Regions from separate parts of the Homo sapiens genome. Here all the other regions are linked to region 1. The links come from fine-mapping of genetic effects on gene expression. A gene starts in region 1. Each other region holds a variant in brackets. All regions are shown on one strand. Distances are from middle to middle.

What was found. PIP is the estimated chance that this variant, and not a neighbour inherited with it, causes the effect.
Region 2: its variant is fine-mapped to the expression of LSMEM1 in whole blood (INTERVAL, PIP above 0.99).
Region 3: its variant is fine-mapped to the expression of LSMEM1 in whole blood (INTERVAL, PIP 0.94).

What each region holds. Positions count from the first base shown.
Region 1 is chr7:112,476,161-112,484,349 of GRCh38, forward strand. It overlaps LSMEM1 (leucine rich single-pass membrane protein 1), which reads left to right and starts at 4,831. Exons shown (of 4, transcript NM_182597.3): 1 at 4,831-5,186. IFRD1 (interferon related developmental regulator 1) reads left to right here. Exons shown (of 12, transcript NM_001550.4): 12 at 1-1,043.
Region 2 is chr7:112,442,297-112,450,485 of GRCh38, forward strand. It overlaps LOC105375457 (a long non-coding RNA gene), which reads right to left and starts at 1,054. Exons shown (of 3, transcript XR_001745325.2): 1 at 9-1,054. It overlaps IFRD1 (interferon related developmental regulator 1), which reads left to right and starts at 8,164. Exons shown (of 12, transcript NM_001550.4): 1 at 8,164-8,189. RefSeq lists enhancers at 7,254-8,071, 8,072-8,189, 8,189. The variant A/T (reference allele first, on the strand shown) is at 3,533.
Region 3 is chr7:112,372,215-112,380,403 of GRCh38, forward strand. All of the region lies in intron 2 of LOC105375456 (a long non-coding RNA gene), which reads right to left. It also overlaps the pseudogene MTND5P8, the pseudogene MTND6P24 and the pseudogene MTCYBP24. Among named protein-coding and RNA genes, the nearest start is that of ZNF277-AS1, 26 kb to the left of the region's middle. The variant T/C (reference allele first, on the strand shown) is at 4,312.

The sequences.
Region 1 (8,189 bases):
CTTTGAAATAAAGATTTTTTTCCACACTGAAAGTGCTTCTCTTCTAATAGAAGAAATATTATTTATGGCTTTGAGGTACAGAGTCCAAAATGACTAGGCCAGGTGGGCAGGGAGACAAAGCTTTATGTGTATATTTACAAACATTAAAGTAGATGAAAAGAATGTAGCAATACATAATTGGGATTAAGGTTTCTGACTTTCAAGAATATTTCTGCTTGGCAACATGCAGTGTGGCTCATGCCTATAATCAGCACTCTGGGGAGGCTGAGGCGGGAGGATGGCATGAGCCCAGTTTGAGACCAGCCTGGGCAACATAGCGAGACCCTGTCTCTACCAGAAATTTAAAAAATGAGTGTGGTGGTGTGTGCTTCTACTCTTTATCTACTTGGGTGCTGAGGCAAGAGGGTAACTTGAGCCCAGGAGGTCAAAGCTGCAGTGAGCCGTGATTGTGCCACTCCAGCCTGGGTGACGAGTGAGACCTTGTCTCAAAAGCAAAACAAAAAAGAATATTGCTGCTTGTTTGCCCATGAGGTATATTTCTTTCATTTTATGAAAAGCATTTTGACAACACGTTAACATTTAATAAACTTTAGATTAAAATATATAGTGCAAGCAACATGCCATTTCAAATCCGTAGACTTGTTTCTTTGATACTCTTGCTGTAGGTCGCCGTGAGGGGTAGGGAAGCATATATACTGTAGGGAGAAGTATCAAAATCATTTAAGGTCTTTTTTCCAAACTAGTGTTCCCCTCCCACATCCCAACAACTCTTGGAAGTCTGGTGCTCCCTCTAGGTGAAAATCATTTGCTGGCTTATGGAGTCACTGTTGCTGAGTCCCATCCCCCAGTTACAGTGCAGTGGAAAACAGGTTTAGAATCTAGAACTTGTTTGTATGTTGTCACTTGGTTATGTTCCAAGTAGGTTAGAACCATGGAAAAGAGATTGCAAATGGTAGTTTCTTCTAGATATTCAAATGCATATATGTATGTACATGTAATTATAAATAAATAATGAATTTTTATTAAAGTGTTGTATGAACATAGGTTTTTGTTTGTTTTTGAGACAGTCTCCCTCTGTTGCGCAGGCTGGGGTGCAGTAGCGCAATCTTGGCTCACTGTAACCTCTGCCTTCAGGGTCCAAACGATTCTCCTGCCTCAGCCTCCTGAGTTGCTGGGATTACAGGTGTGTTCCACCACACCTGGCTAATTTATATTTTTAGTTGTGATGGGGTTTCACCATGTTGGCCAGGCTGGTCTTGAACTCCTGACCTCAAGTGATCTGCCCGCCTTGGTCTCCCAAAGTGTTGGGATTACAGGCATGAGCCACCGTGCCCAGCCTGAACATAGTTTAATGGTACTTCAAGGCTAATAAGGAAAGCCCCTTGCTCCATCCTTTCCTATTCCTCAGTCCCATCCCAAGAGACATTCAGCCTTCAGTTTTTTCTAGCTCGGTTCTTTCAGCCTTCAGTTTTTGGTTTTAGGTTTCTAAATAATATGATTATACAGCCATTTATTTTTTAGGTGTTTGTCAACTTACTATTAAGACAGGTGAAAATTTCTTTTATTGTTTCACATCCTTCTAATATTATTTTGGTTAGATCATGTACCTGTTTGCATAGCTGTGATCATACTTGTATGTTCACTCGTGAATTAATTTAATGTGCTTACATTTTCATTCTCATACAACGTTTTGTCTTGGAGTTAATGCTCTTTTTTTTGGCTTTTTATGCACATCATTGATTCTTCCCAAACAGTCCCAAATAAATTTGTCACAACTTTTCTTGATTCTGTACTTGTTTCAATCTAGACTAGTTTCTCTCATCCAATTGTATAGCAGTTTTCCTGAGACAGCACTATCGTGAGGATTTGTTTTTCTTTCTCTTGAATTGTATCCCTCATTTTCTGGATCCCATGTCTTAATTTACTTCTTTGTTAACATGGAGCACTTCTTTCAGTAGTTTCTTGGGAATGAGTGCGTGAGAGATCAGTCAGTTATTTAGTGACTTCATATTTCTGAAAGATAGTTTGCATGGAAATTCTAGGTGGAAAATCAAATTTGGAATTTTTGAAAATTTTGACAAGTGTATTCAAATTCAGAATTTTGAAGGCATTGCTCTATTCTAATTTGCAAAATCTTGAGATATCTGATGCAGTTTTTATTTTTATTTCTTTGTTTTCTCAGCATCTCTGTTTCTAGTGTTCTAAAATTGCATGATACTGTGCTTTGGTGGGATTGGCAACCTGGAAAATATTAAGTTCTTCATCTCTTCTCTTCCTCCTCATTTTCTTTGTTCTGGAACTCTATGACATAGTGGAGCTCCCAAATTGAATCTTGGGCCTTATTTATTTTTTTTTTTTCTGTCTGGGATATTTCTCTAAGACAATTTTCCAATTTGTATTGCATTTTGTTTTTGGCTAGCATTAAATTACTTGCCTCTGTGTAGCTCCATGCCACACTCTTGCCTCTAAATCCTAGGCCTGCCTGAATTCTGCAGGATCAGTCCTACTGTCACTCATCTGTGATAGCCCTGCTAAGGCAGATACCACTCTTCTTACCATGTTCAATACATTTATTGAGCTCTTCAGTATTGTTTCTTCCTATTTTAATTTTTCTGGTTTTGTAATTTGTACTCCTGCTTTTTTACTGGGCTTTTGGGAGGAAGAAGGTATAGAGTGTTAATCTGCATGTTGAATTTATATGCAGGTGACTTTATTCATGAAACTTGTGGTAACTGCTAGACAAGGGTGGCTGGGTGTTCAATGTGTAAGAATGCTTGTGTTTTCTTGAAAGTAGAAAAATGTTGTGTTATAGACTAGTTGTTCATTGCTTGATTCTTGATTAATTTTGCCCGCTTTCATTATTTTGAGGCTCAAGCATTTTGAAGTATTCATTGTCTGTGACTCCTCTTTGATGGGTACTAAATTTCCTGGGAGTGAATTTAGATACCCTGAGATGTAATATATGAAAGAAAAAGCAAATACTTGAGAATGTCCCTAGATTAGACACTTCATGTGAGAATATCTCTTTTTGTGACCCAAAACTCTTTTTTTTTCTTTTGAGATGAAGTTTCGTTTTTGTTGCCCAGGCTGGAGTCCAATGGTATAATCTGCCTCAGCCTCCTGAGTTGCTGGGATTACATGCATGTGCCACCACACCCGGCTAATTTTGTATTTTTAGTAGAGATGGGGTTTCTCCTTGTTGGTCAGGCTGGTCTCGAACTTCCGACCTCAGTTAATCTGCCTGTCTCGGCCTCCCAAAGTGCTGGGAATACAGGCATGAGCCACCGCACTCGGCCCCAAAACTCTTCTTAAAGGTGGTCTTGCAGGTATGTTATAGTTAAAATGAAGTAGGTTGTCTTGCTTTGTTCTTAAGTGGCTTTCCAGAAGTCTAACTGGTCTAAAGGCAGTCTTATCCCCCTCACTGGTGTATAGTTCAATTCAGACTTGAATGCGAGGTATGGGTTTACATCTCATCTCTGCCACTTATAATCAGTGTATCCCTCAACAATTAAATTCCTTAGTCTCCATTTCCTTCCTCCTTCAGGGGAAGTTAATATTCCACAAAGTTAGAAGTTACAGGAGAGGAAAAGTAGTAAACGCCCCAAAATGAGGCAGTTACTTCTATTATATCTTCAAAGGATACATGGCTCAAGGCAGATCAGGTAGTTGGGAGATTTCTTAAAAACAGCATAATAGCTAACATGAACATTTTCATTATTCAGAGAAATTTGACATAGCTTTTTAACGTATGTTTCTGAGAAAAGTTACTAGTTATATTGTCTTCCTCCAAGAATTAGTCTTTGGGTACAGATGAGGCTTGAAAAAATGACATTCCCTCTTAGACTAGGTAGTGTGAAGGGAAAAAAAAAATGACATTCCTCTTCCCCCAAAGCAGAGTGAGGTCCGTATGGGATATAGGTGTAAAGAAAATTTTGGGCCGGGCATGGTGGCTCAAGTTTGTAATCCCAGCACTTTGGGAGGCCGAGGTGGGTGGATCACTTGAGGTCAGGAGTTCAAGACTAGCCTGACCAACATGGTGAAACCCCATCTCTACTAAAAATAAAGAAATTAGCCAGCTATGGTGGCACATACCTGTAATCCCAGCTACTTGGGAGGCTGAGGCAGGAGAATCTGGAAGCAGGAAGGTCTCAGTAGGCTGGGATCATGCCACTGCGCTCCAGCCTGGGCAACACAGCAAGACTCTGTCTCAAAGAAAATTTTGTGGAACACCTATTTTCTCACTGACATGAAAAATGTTTCAAAGATGAATAATGTCCATCAAGCTATGGCAATGGAAGTGAGGATGATAAAGGATTGCACAGTTGTTCACAACCTCACTGTTAGTATCCTGCTGAGATAGTTGGTCTCCTCATCACTGTAGCATCTTTTATGTACAGCAGAGGGCAGAAGCTCCTTGGCATGTATGTGAGGGAACCACATATATGGAAGGCTGTTATTCCTGAGAAAGGAGGATGTGCAGACACTCACAGAACAAAGCCTTTGTAAAGGAAAGGCGGCCGATGAGATGGAGTGCTTCCTTCACCTGTGGTGGGTCTGTATCCATGAAATCGCCCACTCACAATCGCTTTTTGTAGCTACTGGAAGCACTAGGCGTCTGACCTGCCATCATCCTTGTTATGATGTCATAATCATATTCTGTCCGTGTTTATTGCAGTTCTCTGGTTTGTCTGGAGTGTTTGCAAGTCAGTCATCATAGTGGCAGCTTCCGCCTGCTACAGGATATTTATATATGGAAGCATACCATGGCAGGAGTGCTGGAAAGGTGGTGTCAGCTAACAGTTGCTTCAGCCAGATAAGGACGGTAACTTCAGTCCAATAAAAACCTCATCAGTTACCAACTAAATCAGGGCATGGTGTTTTTTTGTTGTTTTCTTTTTAAAGCATAGTTTTAGTAATATATTTACTAAAAACCTTAGACATTATGAAAAAAGTCAGGATTTGGAATCTTACACTGCTTGGCTAAATTGACACAATATAGACCAACAGTTTCATCCTGGGGCTTATGGGTCTCATAGGAGCACCCGTATGCTGAAGAAAGGCAAAGAGAGAACTACAGAATTTGTAGAAAAGTTTTGTTGTAGTTGCTTCTGAACAATTAGTTTTTGTTTGTTTGTTTTGTTTTGTTTTGTTTTTCTGGTAACCTAGCAGTCAAAGCTCACATTTTTGTAAGTAATTTGCATGCTATTACTCTACTGAGACTGAATTATGATTCTCGAGTCTGGGAAGTTTTTGTTGCATGTGCTCTGTGTTTTTCATTTTTGATAGAAATGATTTAGACTTGATTTTAAAAATTACTTCCTGAATGTGAAGAGGCATTGACTGGGAAATGAAATTAAAGAACAAATTACCATGACTCATTCAATAACACTGCTTATTAGCTTTGAATTATGCCCTATTATAACAATTCTGATTTTGTGGCAAGCAATACTGGTGTGAGTTATTTCTGTGGTTTGATACCAAGCACCTGCCTGGTTAAAAAATAAAGCACCAGGCAATTTTTCATAGACAATTATCTTTATTTGTTGGAATATTTATTTGTAAATAGTCAAAGAATTCTTAAATGACAAAAAATCAACTGTTAGCAGTGATCTAAACCAGAGGAAAATGAAATTACTTACATGTTTCCAGTCAAGGTATAAGAAAGGGTTCTGTTAAAGGGATGCTGCTTTAGCCAATCTTGGTGAATAAGCAAATTTGCACACTGGAGTTGAAAGGAGGGTCAAGTTAGTGTGATGAAGAATTGCTAGTAACACTGGCTTCTCCAGCCTTGCTGGTTGTTCCTAGATGCCCTCATTTGGAGATGCCAAAGATAGCAACTACTGGGTGTCAAACAGCCGTGGGGCCTGGTTTTAAGGCCATGTGATCTTGTATCCCTTTACTAGCAGCCTCATGAGTCATTTGCAAGTCATTTGCAGGCTCTTGGAGCCCTGGAACAGCACCCAACTCAGTTTTCTCTGCTAGTTCTTTATTTTTCCATTTGCGTGTTGCAGCTCATTAAAAAAATATTGGAATAGCATATATTTACATTGTGACTTCACTCTAAAGAAGACATTTTCTTTCAAAGCACGTCATGGCTCACTAGGTTGTTGTCTTAGTTTTTTTTGGAGTCACCTTTTGAGTAGATAGCAAGACCAGTAATATGGAGATTTTATTAGCTGTACTCTTAAAGTCAGTTTTTGTGGCCATGATTTTCTAGCTAGGTCTCTATTTTGTAAACATTGATTAAGCCTCAGTATGAAATTGAAGCAACAGCAGATACATTCCTGAAGGGGAAGCTAAGGCTCAAGGCTATTAAGTCAGAGATCCAAAAATGAACCATGCTTCAGTTACCACACCTAAAATAGAAGCTGTGTGCAGAACAGTGGTCCTGTGATGTGACACATAAAACTTTTTTTCCTGGTCACATATTACTGTTTGGTCAAATATTAGTATAAATGGATGATAAAATATGAAACACATCTAAAAGAATTGTTTTAAAATCTGTGACTATGCATGAGTGAATATTTTGGGGCCTTGGTTTTAACTGCAAAAGGATAAGATTTGACTGACCTCTAAGGCCCTTTTACTCTATTTGCTGCTGCTTTTTAATTTTTTTTAATTGTCATATCAAGTCATTTCCTTAGGAATGCTCTATGAAGTATATTTGGAATTCAGTAATGTCAATAAAGTGCTATGGTAGTATCTTATCTGAAAACTCAGGGAATTGTTTGTTCTTGTTAATTAAAATTTCAAGATAAGTGAAACACACTTTTTTAGTTTTAACCCTAAAAAAAATTTTTAGTCCATGACTTTTTGAGCTCACTTTCTTAGCTAGGGTTCTGGTAGCACATTTTTCACAAGTACCAGTAGTTTTAGGTATTACTGGGAAATTGTTTTTTTAATATTTTAGACTAAGTTTAAATTGCTCAGTAAGTGTCTGATACTTTTTTTCCCCACATCTTCTTTAGGTGTATACTTTTTTTTTTTTTTTATGAATTTGGTTTCTCCCAACTCTATATTGCTCTTCATTCTGTAGATGAGTTTTAAAGGAAATTTTTGCAACAACAGAAAGTAAACAGTGTGTTGTCAAATACACACAGGCACCATATTTATCGCATTGACTTTACTAGAGTCCAGATAGACATCACATGAGGATTTTTATCCTCAATCTTATTTCTGTTCATGTACTTATTATTAACTGCCTCCAATTCTTTTGAAAATGGTGAGATTTAAATCCTAAATAAACATTTCAGGTGTTCCATCTTAACATAAGTCACCAACTTCTAAACCTGGCACTGGGCATTTGAAGAATAGGATTCGTCCCTACTCTAAGGAGTTTTCAGTCTATCGGGAAATCAAAGATGTAAGCAAATAGATGCAATAAAATACTACAGATGTTCTGATAGAAGAATGTAAAGAATCCAGCAAAGGCAAAAGGAAAGACAGGTTGGTTCTCTCTTCCTAGGGGAAGTGATGTTTGAGCTGAGTCTTGAGGCAGGATTAGGAAGGGATATAGAAAAGAAAAGTAGCACAAAGCAAGACTCATTGAATGCTGAACAAAAGGCCCGATTCCAGCTCTGCTGCCAGGCAAATGTGTGATCCTGGGCATTTACCTCGCCGAGCTTCCATTTCCTCATTTGCGGAAAGGATGGGAACTAAAGCACATCTAACACCCTTTCTAGATCCAAACATCCTCTATCACGATTAGACTTGATAACCATGAAAGGAAAAGCTTTTATAGTAATTGAAATTTGTCTTTCTAGAGGCTTCTTTTCACATAATTAAATGGCCACAAGTTCTCTGTTGTGCTAGAGATACATCTCCACATAAACCTTTTAAACTCTTCAGGATTTTCAGTGTTGCTTGCAGTTGTGCTGTCGTTAGAGAATATTACTTTCAATATTTAATAAACCTCAAGCTATTACATAAGTGACCTCAGTCTAAGGGAAACCCAGGTGGAAGAGATCTCAGAGGTCCTGAAGTCTAGCAGCATTCCTCTCTATAGCAGCTAAGTTTGCTAAGATTGTTGTCTTGGGGACTCACAGTCAGCATCTTATGGCTAAAGGAATTGTGTGAAGAGAAGGACTTACATGCCATATGGAGGGAGGCTATAAAAATTGCAATTTTCTATTAAAGCCTCCTGCAATTAGAATGGTTCATGGTAATATTCTCTTTTTTCAGAATGTTTT
Region 2 (8,189 bases), 34 kb before region 1:
TTGCTTACTGATGTCTAAAATTCCATCTTTAGCAGAGTCATTTCTTTCTTTGGTTTAATATAAGGAGTATCTCATCATTATAGAGTACGTGGCAGGTTACAAAGACCTTTACATAATGATGTCATTTTTATGACAATCCAGTGACATCAATAAGGCAGGGATTATTGACTCCCATTTTTGAGATAAAGAAATGGAGGTTCACTGCTGCTAGGTGACTTGCTCCAGAAGAGATGACTGAACTCTCCAGGGAGCCTATGGACTCACCGCTTAGGGGTAGAGAGGAGGAACCTCTTTGGTCATGTCCCTGGGGGTGGGCAGTGAAAGCTGATCCATCAAGAGAGAAGCAAGAGTCACCTCCAAATGGGCTGAGAGGGACGGACAGCCACGGGCCACCTGGTACTGAGTTCTGTTGCTGGACTAGGGACTTTATGAGGACAAACACTGTTTTCAGTCATCTCTTTGTTCTCATGCTCTAGAACATGCTTGGTATATAGTGGACACCTGAGGAATATTTGTTGAAGGAATTGAGACTTTTCAAAATATGACAAATATCCACTGTTGGAATGAGCTTCCCTGAAGAGTTGTGTGAGTTCTAGCACTGTCAGAGTTTAAGAAAAAATGATAAATATCTGTTGACTAATATTAATGGCTAACATTGTTTACTATGTGCTGAGTACTGAGCTAAGTACTTTACTTGTATTGTTTCATGTATTCCTCATTCCAACCACATGAAATAGGTTCTATCATTAATCACATTGAAACCAAGGCATGGAAGAGTGAAGTTACTTGCTCAAGAATCCATTGCAAATAGTATGGCCAGGATTTGAACCCTGGAATACTGAGTTAGAGCCTTGGATCTTAATCATGTTGTCAGTCGTTTCCCAGGTGAGGCAGGAGTCTGAAGTAGGTTACCCCTTAAGAAATTTTCAACTATTTAAGATTCTCTGGTGGTTGGCCGTAAGATTAGTACTACCACACGGAGAAAGCTGGGAACAAGAACTGGTTGTAGACTGGGTGTGGTGGTTCATGCCTGTAATCCCAGCACTTTGGGAGGACTGCTTGAGCCCAGGAGTTTGAGACCAGCCTAGGCAACACAGCAAGACCTCATTTCTACAAACATAAATAAGTAAATTAGCTGGGATACATGCGTCTGTATCCCAGCTACTCAGGAGGCTGAGACGGGAGGATTGCTTGAGCCCAGGAGGTCAAGGCTGCAGTGAGCTGTGATGGCACCACTGTACTCCAGCCTGGATGACAGAGGGAGACCCATCTCAAAAAAAGCCCCCCAAAAACGGCCGAGTGTGGTGGCTCATGCCTGTAATCCCAGCACTTTGGGAGGTCGAGGTGTGTGGACCACTTGTCAGGAGTTCGAGACCAGCCTGGCCAACATGATGAACCCCGTCTTTACTAAAAATACATAAATTAGCCAGGCATGGTGGTGAACGCCTGTAATCCCTCGGGAGGCTTTGGCAGGAGAATTGCTTGAACCCGGGAGGTGGAGGTTGCAGTGAACCGAGATCGCACCATGGCACTCTAGCCTGGGTGACAAGAGTGAAACTCTGTTTCAAAAAAAAAAAAAAACCCAAAAAACAAACACCATCCCCCACCAAAAAAACAAAAACAAAAACAAAAAAACAAAACTAGTTGTAGAATGTAGAGAGGTTGGTAAAGAACAAGTTGATTTTGGTTATGTTTGGTATGAAGAGTCAGGATATCCAAATGGAAAAGTCCACTGATATTCTTTATGTTCAACAAAAAGATAATTCCTACTTACGCTGTTGCCATAAAAAGTTCTTCCAACATAATGCGTCATAACTATCCTAGTTTGGCTGTGTGTATTATGGTACTTATGGCTCACAGTACCCTGTTAACACAGTCTCATATTTTATTATTGATAATACTGCAGCTTTGTGAGATAAGCAACATTCCCATTTTAGAAGACAATTAAACACTGACTGTCTTTTGTCAGAAATTTCATTACAGAAAGTGTATGTAATTTCAAAACTGAAAACCACAAAGAAGTATCTTCTACACAACAAAAAGAAAAAAGCAAACAAAATATATCTTAAGGCTTAAAGAGTTCTAACTAAATTTGCCCGCCGAATCATTTCTTAACAAACAGGGATCTCAAATTTAGCATGCTGTATTATCACCATTCTTGGCAATAAAACAAAAATTGCAAACATATTAAGAAAACAATGCAATCTAAAACACAACAAGTGATAATCCATGTAAAAAATTATTTGATGGAATAACATTACTATTTAATAATAAAGTTCTGCTAAAGCTTTAGAAATATCAGAAAAAACTTACACTGGCAAACATTCATCAGGCAGTCAACAACTGAATGTCCCCTGTATACTGATACTAGGGGTGAAGAGACTCTAAAAAAAAGGGGAACAAGGCAAAATTTAACTTCAAGGGGCCTTTTCTCGCAGCATTGCAAATAAAACCCATGACTCTGGACATAAAAAAGCAACAGTGACACTGGGGACTACTAGAGGCGGGAGGGATGGAGGGGGAAAGAGTTGAAAAACTACTGGGTGCTATGCTCACTACCTAGGTGACGGGATCATTCATATCCCAAACCTCAGCATCATGCAATATAACCATGTAACAAACCTGTACATTATACCCTGAATCTAAAAGTTGAAATTATAAAAAAGCAAACAAGAAAACCCATGACTCCTAGGAACAAGCACTCAGGTTCCCATATGACCAAAGCCAGCCAGAGGCAAACTTGGAATCAGATAGGCCTAGGCTTTCTTTTTTTTTTTTTTTTTTTTTTGAAACAGGGTCTCGCTCTGTCACCCAGGCTGGAGTGCAGTGGCGCAATCTCGGCTCACTGCAAGCTCCGCTTCCCGAGTTCATGCCATTCTCCTGCCTCAGCCTCCCGAGTAGCTGGGACTACAGGCGCCCGCCACCACGCCCGGCTAATTTTTTATATTTTTAGTAGAGACGGGGTTTCACCGTGTTAGCCAGGATGGTCTCGATCTCCTGACCTTGTGATCCGCCCACCTTGGCCTCCCAGAGTGCTAGGATTACAGGTGTGAGTTACCCCGCCCGGCCGGCCTAGGCTTTCATCACAACAGACGCACTGTTTACCAATGGTACGACCTTGGGGAAGTTGCAAAACCTCTCTAAGCTCATTTCTTCATCCACAAAATGGTAAAACTAATCTTTTCTGCGTAGGGTTGTTGTAAGAATTACATGAGAGGTGTGAAAACAGTCTAGAACAGTGGCAGTGTGGACTTGCAATAAATGTTAGCCTCATCCTTTTCCCCACATTAGTTCCTTTGCTTTTAAGAAAACTGCTAAAATACAGAGGAAATTGACTCCCTCATTCAATTAAAAACACAGTTATTGTCTACTGGGCCACTATGTACAGATGTATAGGTTGTTCCCTGCTGAAGAGAGATTGGTGACTGGATTCCAGCCCATAAACACTCATCAGACTTGGTGTTCTGTTTCTAATTTGCACAAAGGTGCTACATGTGTGTTTCAGAAGTGACAAAACTGGGCTTTGCCCACA[A/T]GTAGCATGTAGCTTGTATCTCATGTCTGAGGGGAAAACAGACAAGTAATCAAGAACTACAATACATATTAAAAAAAAAGAAGTAAAAAAACCCTACAATACATATAATTAATGCTAGTCTAAAGAAGGCACTGCAAGAACAAAAAAGAAAGACATTTAAATCAGACAATTTGGGGGGCCCAGGATTAGTGACCGAGGATCAGTAACTTAAAGGATGATGGGGAGATCGTGGGGAAGGATGTTCTAGGCAGAGGAGTGACATTTAATTATTAATACATTTATTCATTCAGTAAATGTGTTTTGTTAGTTCATGTCTTTTATTAACTCATACACAATTAATTGTCTTCTGGTTTGCTGAAGCAATGAGACATTTGTCACAATAATGTCTGTCAAAGTGGCTGGCCATAAACGCTCCAGTACCACATTCATCTGAAGAGCACTCTAGATGAAGGCGACTTATTTTGCCATTCTCATCCACCTTACAGTATTTCAGGACAGCCAGCTTCACCTTCTTTCGCTTACGCTTATTCTTCTCAGGAGTGGTGTAAACATTCAGTAAAAAATAATTGAATATCTAAGTGCCACGTACTGTTCCAGTACTGAAGATACAATAGTGAATAAAACAGACAGGATCTCTTTCTTGTAATTCTAACATTCTAGTAGAAGAGACAAAAAATAATTGGGCCAAAAAATATTAAGTAGTGCGATGTACTTTGGGAGAATATAAGCAGGGTGGAGGTGCTGGTGGTAGGTGGGGTGAGGATGCGACCTTAGAATGGAGAGTGGAAGAGTGGGAGAGTAGGAAGGCCTCTTCAGGTAGGTGTCATTTAAGCTCAGATCTGAATGGCAAGTGTGGGAAGCTCGGGTTGATCATATCAGGCAGAGGGAGGAGCTGTTGCAAGTCTTAAGTGGGGAATGAACTTTGTGTTTTTAAGTTGGCAAAGACCAGTGTGGCTGAAATGCAGTGGATGAAAAGAGGGGCAGGAGATGCAATATGGAGAGAGAGGTATGTGCCAAACCTAGGTAAGGCCTGGAAGCTTGAGAGTGGTGAGCTCAGAGACCTGCTAAGAGTTTGATATGGCATTAGGAAAGGGACTGTGTTAGGTGATGAGAGAAGTGATTTGGGAGATACAGGCAAGAAACAGATTCCGACAAGCCCTACATGGAGGATCTGGGAGGTATTATTTCTGCTCAGTGCTATGCAGAGAATCCCAAGGAGGCCATGACTAAAGTCATTCAAAGAAAACCTTTCATGTTTATGCCTTCAAGGAAGGTATGAATACTGAATCTTATCTTTATTACTTGTTCTTGAATCAAAGTCATCAATGAGAACTTAGAACTCTTCTCAGGCGTGCCCCTAAATTCTGATTAATGTAAGATTTATTTTTGCAACATTTGAGTATACTTACCCTGATGGTGATTTCTGTTCCATGGAATGTTAAACTAAGTTGTTTTGTAAAAGAAGAATATATTTTACAATGACTTAAATGTTGAGGCAGCACATAATGTCATGTTGGTAACAAATATGTGATATTTATTTATTAGAGCATGAGAGTATTTTGCCTCCTGATATATGAGGCAGACATTGCTATTTGTCTACCTTATATCCATGGTTTCCCCTTCATTCTTAACAACAGAACCTCAATTTTGTTTGCGAATGAGCCCAACCGAAAATACTTGTGTTCTAAACTTCCTTGCAGCTAGGGATCATCCTGTGACACAGTTCTGGTCAACATGTAGGTGGAAGTTTCTAGGGAGTGTGGTCTTTCCTGAAGAAAAAGGCAAAGTCTGGAGAAAGCCCTTTTTCCTGTTCCCTTTCGTGCTTCCCCTTCCTTTCTGGTATTTGTAATCATTTAGTGACTTGATGTTTGGAGTCTTCTAATTTCTTTAAACATATTGCAAAATAGTATGTGGAGCTGAAGACCACTGTCCCATGAGGAGGTGGGCTACATCTTTGTGATGTTTGCACTGGTCTGGAGCTAAACTGCAGGCATAAAACTATAGTAAGGTAATTTTATCAAAAGTACAGTATCTCTCAGAATTCATTATACTGAAGGCTGTACTTCATGTTTGTAGTGATAAGTAGTTTCTCCCTTTCCTTGATCCAGAATGTATGTATGTAGTGATACATAAGTTTCTCCCTTTCCTTGATCCAGAAAAATCTAGTCAACAATTATTTCTTAAATGTTCATTTAACTATATATATACTGACTATAATTTCAATTTCAAATGTAACACTTCCTTTTGTGCCATGAGGGATACAGCAAGATTTTTTCAAGTTCCTGGGCCTGTAGATTTAAAAAAAAAAAAAAAAGAAAGAAAAGTAAGAAAAAAAGAAAAGAAATTAAAAAGAGGAAAAGATTTTTGTTCTTGGGAAGCTGATAATTTCATGAGATGACAGATGTATTCACAAATAAATGTAAAACAAGTACGTATATGATGTGGTGGGCCATGGCCAGGCCTGCCGCAGAACGACTAAGTGGATGTGAAGGGATTTGGAAAAAAAGCCCCTGCCCCAAATGCAAAGCACACGTTTCCAGGGCTGGAACCTGGATGTTAGGCCTAGGTGATGTGACTCCAGAGTGGCAAAACTGTTGCCTTATGTATAGTATAAATTGTTTCTGGATGGTGAAGAGCCTAGGGTTATAAAAGTTATTGAGTCTACAATTCTGTGAGACATCTCATTCTGTATAGGCCCTGTCACTGAGTTGCAGTGTGCCTCTAGATACAAGGAGTCAGTGTGAGCTGCTTCCTCCCCCACAACCTGCCTCCGTATTTGGTTTCTGTGCTCTGTGCAGTTTACTGGCTGCTTCAGGATTAAACAAAGTAAAAGCAACCCTGAAATGTTGCCCATTAAATAGCATCTTTGAGTAGGCCGTGTGGGGAGGTAATAAGTGCCATTAGGGCATTATTAGGATGAGTGTCAAAGAGTTGTGAGGAGGAAGAAACTTCTGGCTGGAGGCTTCAGGAAGGTGGCAGCATGAGCTACATCTTGAACGGTGGATAAAATTTCTTAAGGTGAAGATGGGAGGAAAGGCATTACAAGAACAGGAAAGAATATGAATGAGGAAATGGAGGTAGGAGAAGAGAGCCGTGTATTGGAAATGAAAAGCAGTCCTGTTTGGCTGAAGAACAAGAACTGTATGAGGAAGCAGTGAAAGATGAGGCTGGAAAGGGAGTCAGGGCCAGGCTAAAAGGGTTGGCATTTAAAGTTAGTCATGGGAGCCATGGAATGTTTTTGAGCAACTATTAAAGCAGGTGGATTAGTAAAATAGGGAACACACAAATAAATCTGGCAGCATTACTGTGCATGAAACATGGATGAAAAGACTGGGAGATCGCTTAAAATGCCCAGGCATGAACTGAGGTCACATGTGATCACAGAATAGGACAGGAATTTAAGAGTGCTATTTTAAAACTAATTGCTTTGCGGGTGGGGAGGGGGTGGTGCATCAAAGGGAAAAAAGACTATGAATTTGAGTTTTGGAATTTAACATATGGGAGGATAATAAATAGTACAGTGAACAAAGGGAAGACAGGAAGAAGGAAATATAGTATTCGTTTCAGAGATGTTGGGTTGAGGCACAAGTGGAACATTCTGGTGGAAATTTGCTACAGGCAATTGAAAATAGAATAGAGCTCAGCTGAGAGGTGGAGTGGCGGATGACTCACCTACATTGAGGTGAGTCAGGGACTTTGATCTGTCATAAGCATAGTATATGAACCTAATAACAGGCTCTAAATACTAGACAAATGTCCTAACAAGGAAGACAGAGATCTAGGAGTGCCTTGAGAAAAAAGGCAGCACTGCGATTATTGATCTGTATAACTTGTGTTTGTTTTACCAGCTGTGAAATTCTCAGAACTGGCAGGTAGTATTGTCAAGGGACACATTCTTGTATAGAAACCCACAACGCTGAATCGTCATATATTCCTAGTCTAGAATCTGAGATATACACGAACTCCACAACTAAGTAGACGAAAGCATCCCTTTTTTTGGGGGGGGGGGGGGATGGGGGGCACATAACCCTGAACCACGGTCCAATTACAGGTACAGTACTGATGATGGCTTAAGTAGTTCATGGAACTAGTTAAAACTAAAACCATGGAAATGTTACCCAGGAGAGGTAAGGCTGCGTGCCTGGCAGGTGCCGCAGGGAAGTAGGGGAAAGGTTAAGGAGAACACCAGCCTCCGGAGAAAGAGAAGCAAAGGTGATTGCATAGCTGCCAGCTGGAAGCCGACTCTCGTCATAGGGCATACTCGCCCCACTGTGCATCGCCGGTGCCTACCTCACCCAGTTCCAAGGCGGGGGCGCGCCGAGGCAGGGGTGGGGTCACCAGGAGAAAAGCAAGTGGGCAGAAAAGCCCGTTGGGAAGAGACGGCTGGGAGGAGGCCCCGGCCCCAGCCTTACTACGTTTCCCAGAATTCAGTGAGGCCACGAAGACAGGCTCCCTGGGCGCGGACGGAAGACTGGCCGCATGGGATTTGTAGGTAGGATCCGCGCCCCGCCCGACGGAGGCGTCCAGTGGGGAGGTGTGCAGGGATTGGTTGGGAAGCGCTCAAGCCCCGCCCACAGAGTGACGTCAGGTGGCGGTATTGCTACTTAAGGCGTCGTGGCCTCCCCTGCCCCGCCTTAGCTCCCGCGCTAGAGAGAAA
Region 3 (8,189 bases), 100 kb before region 1:
TATGATTCTATTTATATGAAGTGTCCAGAATAGGGAATCTATAGAAACAGAAAGCAGATTAGTGGTTTCCAGGATCTGGACAAATGGGAAGTAAACTGCTAATAAGATTGCTTTTTGGGGTGATGAAAATGTTCCAAAATTCATTGTGGTGATAGTTGCACAATTCTGTGAATATACTATAAACCCATTGAATTGTGTACTTTAAGTGGGGGAATCATATGTGAGTTATTTCTCAATAACACTGTTAATAAAATATTTCATTAAAAAAATTACATTGATCCTGACCAGAACTATCCCTGAAAAATGTTGCCAGTTATGAGAAAGTGGTATATTTTCTATTTTTTTTAGGTTTGGACTTCTAAAATTTCTCTTCCAATATTTGGAATTCCTTTTAGGTGAACACTGGGAATTTGAGCAAGCTGTTGTGCTTGCTCAGCCCTACTCCACTCCAGCACTATAGTTGTAGCAGGAGTTTTCCTGCTCATCCGCTTCTACCCTTTAATAGAAAATAGTCTACCAATCCAAGCCTTTACATTATGTCTGGGGGCCATTACCCCCTTATTTACAGCGATCTGCGCTCTGACACAAAATGATATTTAAAAAATCATAGCGTTCTTCACCTCAAGCCAGCTGGGCCTTATAATAGTCACAATTGGCATTAATCAACCACATCTAGCATTCCTTAACATCTGCACGCATGCCATTTTTAAAGCTATATTATTTATATGTTCAGGCTCCATCAGCCATAACCTCAATGACGAACAAGACATCCAAAAAATAGGAGGACTGTTCAAGACTTTACCCTTCACTTCCTCCTCCCTTACTATTGGTAGCCTTGCACTTACAGGTATGCCTTTCCTCACAGGCTTTAACTCTAAAGACCTTATTATAGAAACCGCAAATACATCATACACCAACACCTGAGCCCTTTCTATTGCTCTTATTGCCACCTCCTTAACAGCTGTCTATAGTACCTGTATTATTTTCTTCGTTCTCATAGGACAATCTCGCTTCACAACTCTGATTATTATTAACGAAAATAACCCTTCCTAATTAACTCAATTAAGCACCTAACAATACAGCAGTATCTTCTCTGGGTTCCTCATCACCAACAGTACTATTCCTGCTTCATCCCCCCAAACAATTATACCACTCCACTTAAAGCTCAAAGCCCTAGGTGTAACCACCTTAGGCCTCTTACTAGCAATGGAGCTTAATCTCATAACTAATAACCTCAAACTAAAGTACCCATTACAGACATTCAGCTTCTCCAATATACTAGGTTTTTATTCAGCCACAATCAACCATTCAACCCCCCACTCAAGCCTATTCACAAACCAAAATGTGGCTTCACTTCTACTAGACGTAATTTGACTAGAAAAGTCTATACCAATGACCATCTCACAAATCTAAGTTTCAGCCTCCATTACTGTATCTACTCAAAAAGGCCTAATAAAACTCTACTTTCTCTCTTTTTTTATCCCATCCCTTCTAACACTACTATTAATTATCTAATCTATTACCCCAAGTATTTTCAATTGCAACATAAATACTAACAAATAATGATCAACTAGCAACTACCACTAATCAACACCCATAACTGTAGAAGGCAGCCACACCCACAGAATCCTCACACAACCCCACCCCCTCACCCTCAAAAATTATCCAACTCTCTACACTTTAAAATCAATTGTGATCACCAGCCCATTGTACTCAACTATTCACTGAACCAACATCAACTCTATTAATCATCCTAATAATAAACCTCCTCAAATGTCTATACTTGACCCTCGTGTTTCAGGGTATTCCTTAATAGCCATTGCCGCAGTATAACCCAAAACAACCATCATACCACCCAAATAAATCAAAAAGACTATTAACCCCACGAAAGCCCCACCAAAATTCAACACAATACCACAACCCACAGCACCACTAATAATTAGCCCTAGGCCTCCATAAATAGGAGAAGGTTTCAAAGAAAAGCCTACGAACTCTATAACCAAGAGAACATTTAATAAAAATAAAGCATATACCATTATTCCACATGGACTATAACCATGACCTAATGATATGAAAAACCATCATTGTACTTCAACTGTAAGAATACTGATGACGAATACCCGCAAAAGACACCCGCTAATAAAAATTAACTATTCAGTCATTGATCTTCCCACAGCCTCCAGCATTTCTACCTGATGAAACTTTGGCTCACTTCTTGGTGCCTGCCTAATTCTCCAAATCATCACAGGATTATTTTTGGCCATGCACTGTTCATCAGACACCTCAACTGCCTTCTCTTCAGTCACTCATATCAGCTGAGAGGTAAACTACGGATAAATGGTCTGCTATTTTCATGCTAATGGTGCTTCAATATTTTTCATCTGCCTCTTCTTACACATTGGCCAAGGGTTATACTACGGGTCATTACTATTCCCAGAAACCTGAAATATTGGCATTATTCTCCTATTCACAACTATAGCAACAACATTCATAGGCTATGTGCTCCCATGAGCCCAAATATCATTCTGAGGCACTACAGTAATTACAAATTTACTATCAGCCATCCCATATATTGGAACTGACTTTGTACAATGAATCTGAGGGGGATTCTCATTTGACAAAGCCACCCTCACACGATTTTTTGCCTTCCATTTCATCTTACCTTTCGTCATTACAGCTCTAGCAACTGTTCACCTTTTATTCTTGCATGAAACAGAATCTAACAACCCTTCAGGAGTTTCATCAGACCCCGACAAAATCACTTCCCCCCGACAATATACAACCAAAGATGTTCTAGGTTTAATTTTTCTCCTCCTCCTTCCCGACCTCCTGAGCGACCCAGATAATTACACTTTAGCCAACCCCCTCAATACCCCACCCCACATTAAGCCAGAGCGGTACTTTTTGTTTGCATATGCAATCTTACGATCTATCCCTAACAAATTAGGAGGCGTACTGGCCCTCGTATATTCCATTCTCATTCTAGCAGTTATTCCAGTACTTCACATGTCTAAACAACAAAGCATAATAAGTTATTAAGTCAATGCCTATTCTGAATCCTAGTGGCTGACCTGCTTACACTCACATGAATCAGAGGGCAGCCAGTCAAATATCCTTTCATTGCCATCGGACAGACAGCATCTATCATGTACTTCTCTACCATTCTCACCCTTATACCACTCACTACCGTAATTGAAAATAAACTTCTTAAATGAAAATGTCCTTGTAGTACAATTCCATACTCTGGTCTTATAAACCAGAAATGGAGAATCCCCTCCCCGGGGCAACTCAGGGAGAAAGCATTCCCGCTTCACCGTCAACAGCCAAAGCTGAAATTCTAATTAAACTACTGCCTGAATTTTTTCACAGCACACACTTTAACTACTATGTCAGTATTAACCAACTAACAGTACTAATTGATTAGTGGTGTCTGAGAGATGTTTGTGGCTATGGCTGTGGCATTGGCAGTTGAGCTTCCCATGGATATGAGGAAACTCCTAATTATTGTAGCCAAGGAATCTGCAGCTTCTTGACACCCATCTATCCATCCATCTGTCCATTCGTCTATTCATCCACTTGTCTACCCATCCACCCATCCACCCACCCCTCCATTCCTCCATCCCTCTCTATCCTTCCACCCACCCATCCATCCATCCAGTTAACATCTACCAGTAAGTACCTACTGTATGTTAGACCTTGTGTAATTGCTGGAGACACAATGGAGAACACAACAGTCATCATCTTATCCTTAAGCTTATAGTACAGCAGTGAGACAGTCAAATAAAAAGGCCATGGCCACACAATGTGATTTACATGTTGGAGAGGTGAGCATAGGGGTTATGAAGAACATAGGTCTCCCTTGATAAGTCAATCCATTCAGTGCCCACTTCATCCAGTCCTCTTTCTACAGTTGACCTCCTTCAGTTTTCTTTCTGTTTTCTCTCTCCACTGTAACCACTTTCCCTTATTAACTTTAAGATATATCCCTTTAGTGAGTAATCAGAATTTCAAATTCTTACTCCATATAAAGCATTTTAATGATGTACTTTTATGATATTAGAATTTTGTATCAGACCCTTGCTGCTATATTATAAATAGATGACCACACTGTCAAGGTTACAACCACATAAATACTCCAGAAACATTGTAGCAAGGAGAAACTCAAGTTCATTGAAATAATTGGATTAATTACCTTCTCTTCAGAGACTTGAAATTTTTCTTCCCCTAGCAACTCTCTTTAGAGAAAGTTTTACTGTATAGCTGTATGCATTCATCTCCATCTGTCTGAGATGGCTGGTTTGGGTTTTCCTA[T/C]GTGCTCTTAGCAGTTCTGTGAAATTGTTTGCTATTGCATCTGCAGTTCTATTATGATTTGAGATATTTTGAAAGAAGAGTTAGTTTGTTGCTGACTGCATTATGTTGACCACATCCTCACCTGTGTCGATTTACTTCAGAGTTCCTTTTTTTCTAAAACCACATTATCGATCTTTGTAATAATAGGTTTTTAGGTATTACAGATGCTTTTTCATAATTTATTTTATTTTCATTTACATAGTCTCCCAATTTAAAAGAAGCCAATGGTATTCATACTTCAGGAAGATCTGGGCAAGTTCGAGAGTTTGAGTCCTTTGAATAGAACACTGAAGGACATATGCTACTTCTAGTTTGCTTTACAATTTCTCAGCACTGACATTTTAATTTTATTTTTTAGAGACAGGGTTTTGTCATGTTGCCCAGGCTGGCCTCGAACCCCTGAGCTCAAGTGATCCATCCGCCTTGGCCTCCCAAAGTGCTGGGATTACAGGTGTGAACCACTGTGCCTGGCTCGAAATTTTTGAAATTTAAGAAATACTGTATAGATCTAAATATTTATTTGAGAGATGGAGAGAAGAGCAATTGAGTGCTAGTGATCTATATAATGTAACTAAAGTGAAGATGCCATTATAATGTTTGAACATGATATGTAAATTTTATGGTTTGTTTCTAATCTAAATGTTACTTTGAAAAGTTATGGACAAGTCCAGTTGTTTTTGCCTCAGCAGAGAAGTTTCCTCAAATTGAAACTAATTAAGAAAAACATCTAAAAACTTTAATTACTCAAGAAATATTATCTAATTTGGTATTACTGTCTACAGGAGTCGAATTATGCAAAAATCTTGCTTACAACTACATAATTAGTGATTTTATTGAAATGAAGACAGGAAAAAATAACATATGGAAAAAATATAAAATACACTGTGAATTAAATGCCTTTATTTACTGCTCTTCTCAACATCTCCAGACTATCAATGGACCACCCAGACATGCACAATAATAATTTAATTTTATCATGTTTGATATTTTGCCAAATTTTACATTTTATACTTATCTTTTTTCTATTTTGTCATTAAGCAGGTTTTTCAAAGTAGGAGAAGAGAACATATTTTAATTAACTGTTTGTTGGCTTGACTTATAACTTTCATTATTTTATTTATTTATTTTCTGTAGAGATGGGGTTTCACCATGTTGGCCAGGCTGTTCTTGAACTCCTGGCCTCAAATGATCTGCCTGCAGAGGCCTCACAGAGTGCTGGGATTACAGGCATGAGCCACCGCACCCAGCTTGATTTATAGCTTTTAAATGTTTAGACTTACAGTATGTAGCTTTCCATCTGTACTCTGGCCACAGGCTCCACAAGTGTTTGAGGAAAGCCTTAGATTTTTCATGCCTTAGTTTTTTGTTTGTTTGTTTGTTTGTTTTTAGACAGAGTCTTGCTTTGTCTGTCACCTAGGCTGGAGTGCAGTGGTGCAATCTCGGCTCACTGCAACTTCCGCCTCCCCGGTTCAAGCGATTCTCCTGCCTCAGCCTCCCGAGTAGCTGGGACTACAGGCGCGTGCTACCACACCCAGCTAACTTTTTGTACTTTTAGTATAGACGGGGTTTCACCGTGTTAGCCAGGATGGTCTTGATCTCCTGACCTCGTGACCCGCCCGCTTCGGCCTCCCAAAGTGCTAGGATTACAGGCGTGAGCCACTGTGCCCGGCAGATATATATATATATTTTAATAGCACTATATTCACATGATTAAAAACTTTAAAAATATATAGCAAAAGTCAAATTGTGAAAAGCCTAATTGCCACTCTAATTTCATCCATCACATTCTCACCTCTGCCTGCAAACCATTTCTTGGATAATCACATTTATAAAATTATATATGAATATAGCTTTGTATTCTCCTCCCTCCCTTTTATATAAATGTTAGCATTCTGTGTATATTGTCTTATACCTTGCCCTTTCCACTTAACATATTTTGGAATATTTCCATATTAGTTCATCGAGAAGTTTCTCAATCTTTTAAAACAGTTGCATAGTAGTCCATTGTATGGATATATAACAACTTATTATTTGACTATTCCAAGGACATTTGGGTCATTTCCAATCTGTTACTATTACACACAACACTGACATGCCTGTTTAGTATTACTGCTCCTTGCTCCCAAAATGTCAGCAGCAGCACCCTCTGTCACAGTGGTCAGCCAATGTGTGCTCTTTCACCTTTCCAACTGCCTCTGAGTGGGAAGAGGGATGGTCATGTCTCCAACATTTATATTTGTCATTGCATTTTATTTGTAATTTGTTTGAATTTCTAATTTTACTAATCTTTGTAAGTTTAATTATGTATTAGTTTCCTGTGGCTGCTGTAACACATTGCTGCAGCCTTGGTGGCTTAAAACAACGAAATTTACTGTCTCACAATGCTGGGTGCCAGAATTCTGAAATCAAGTCTGCAAAAAAGGTGTCTGCAGGGTCACATCCCTTTCAGACTCTAGAGGAGAATCCATTCCTTGCCTCTTCCAGCTTCTGGTGGCTGTAAGAGCTCCTTGGCTTGCAGCTATATCACTCCAGTCTCTGCCTGCAGCTTCACATGGCCTTCCTCTCTTTATATCTTCTCTGTATGTCACTTAAAAACTCCCTCTGCCTCTCTCTTATTGCACATGTGGTCTTATTATACATGTGATCATATTACACATGTGATTGCATTTAGGGCCCACTCAAATAATTCAGGGTAAATGCCTCCTTTCAAGATCCTTAACTTAATCTTTTGTCATATAAATGAATATTCCCAGGTCCCAGGGATTAGAACATGAACAGGTCTTTGGGGCCACCATTTAGCTTACTGCAATAGATGTTGCCAAGTTGTCCTCCAAAAAGTTTGAACCAAATTTATACTTTCTTTAGTGATATATGAGTGCCTGTTCCCCACAGTCTTACCAACAGAATGTTGTCAAACTTCTGGATTTTACTAATCTGATAGGGAAAATAATATCTTAGTATAGCTTCAATTGCATTTCTCTTATGTGTGAGTTTGAACATTTGTATATATTTATGAGCCTTGAATGTTTATTTCTATGTGAACTATCTGCTCATGTCCTGTGCTCATTTTTCCCCCCTGGATTCTTGGTCTTTTTTTAAAAAAAAAAACAACACACACACACACAATTTCTAAGCACATCTTATATACCAAGATTACCCTTTCATCTTTAAATGAAATACAAACTTTCTTGATTTTTTTTACTTTGTAGTGTCTGTATCATGCACATAAATGTAGTTGTAGTTCTTTTCCCCCTTTATATAGTTGAATCTTTTATGGCTTCTGTTTTCCTTTTAGTTAGAAAGTATTCCCCTCTCTAAAGTTATATAGCAATTCTCTCAAGCTTACTTCTAGAACTTTTATGCTTCATTTTTTTCCCAGTTTATCTTGAAGTCTTTGATGACCTTAGAGTTTATCCTTATGTGTTGTGTGAGATATAGATCCAACTAAATTTATTCCAGGGCAGGATGTTTCCTGCACTTAGCTTTCTCAGATTTATGAAATATCCTACCTTATAAAAGGCTAAATACTTTGGTATCATGTGTCTAAAGGGAAGCATAAAAGAACAAGTTAAAATTTGAATTGGTGCCTCCAGTATGGCTAACAGCTATCTATCAAAATATACTAACCGGCCATTTATAGGGCATTATTAATTATGATATATCCTTCTAATTAAATACAATTTGCCCTATAGTTAATTATTCTTGCATGCTAGACCCTGTTATAAGTAATTTAATTGTTAATATGTGTTTGAGCTTTACAACACTGCTATGAGATAGATGGTGTTATTACCCCAATTTTAGAAATTGAGGTAATAACACCACAGATTATCAAATGGAGG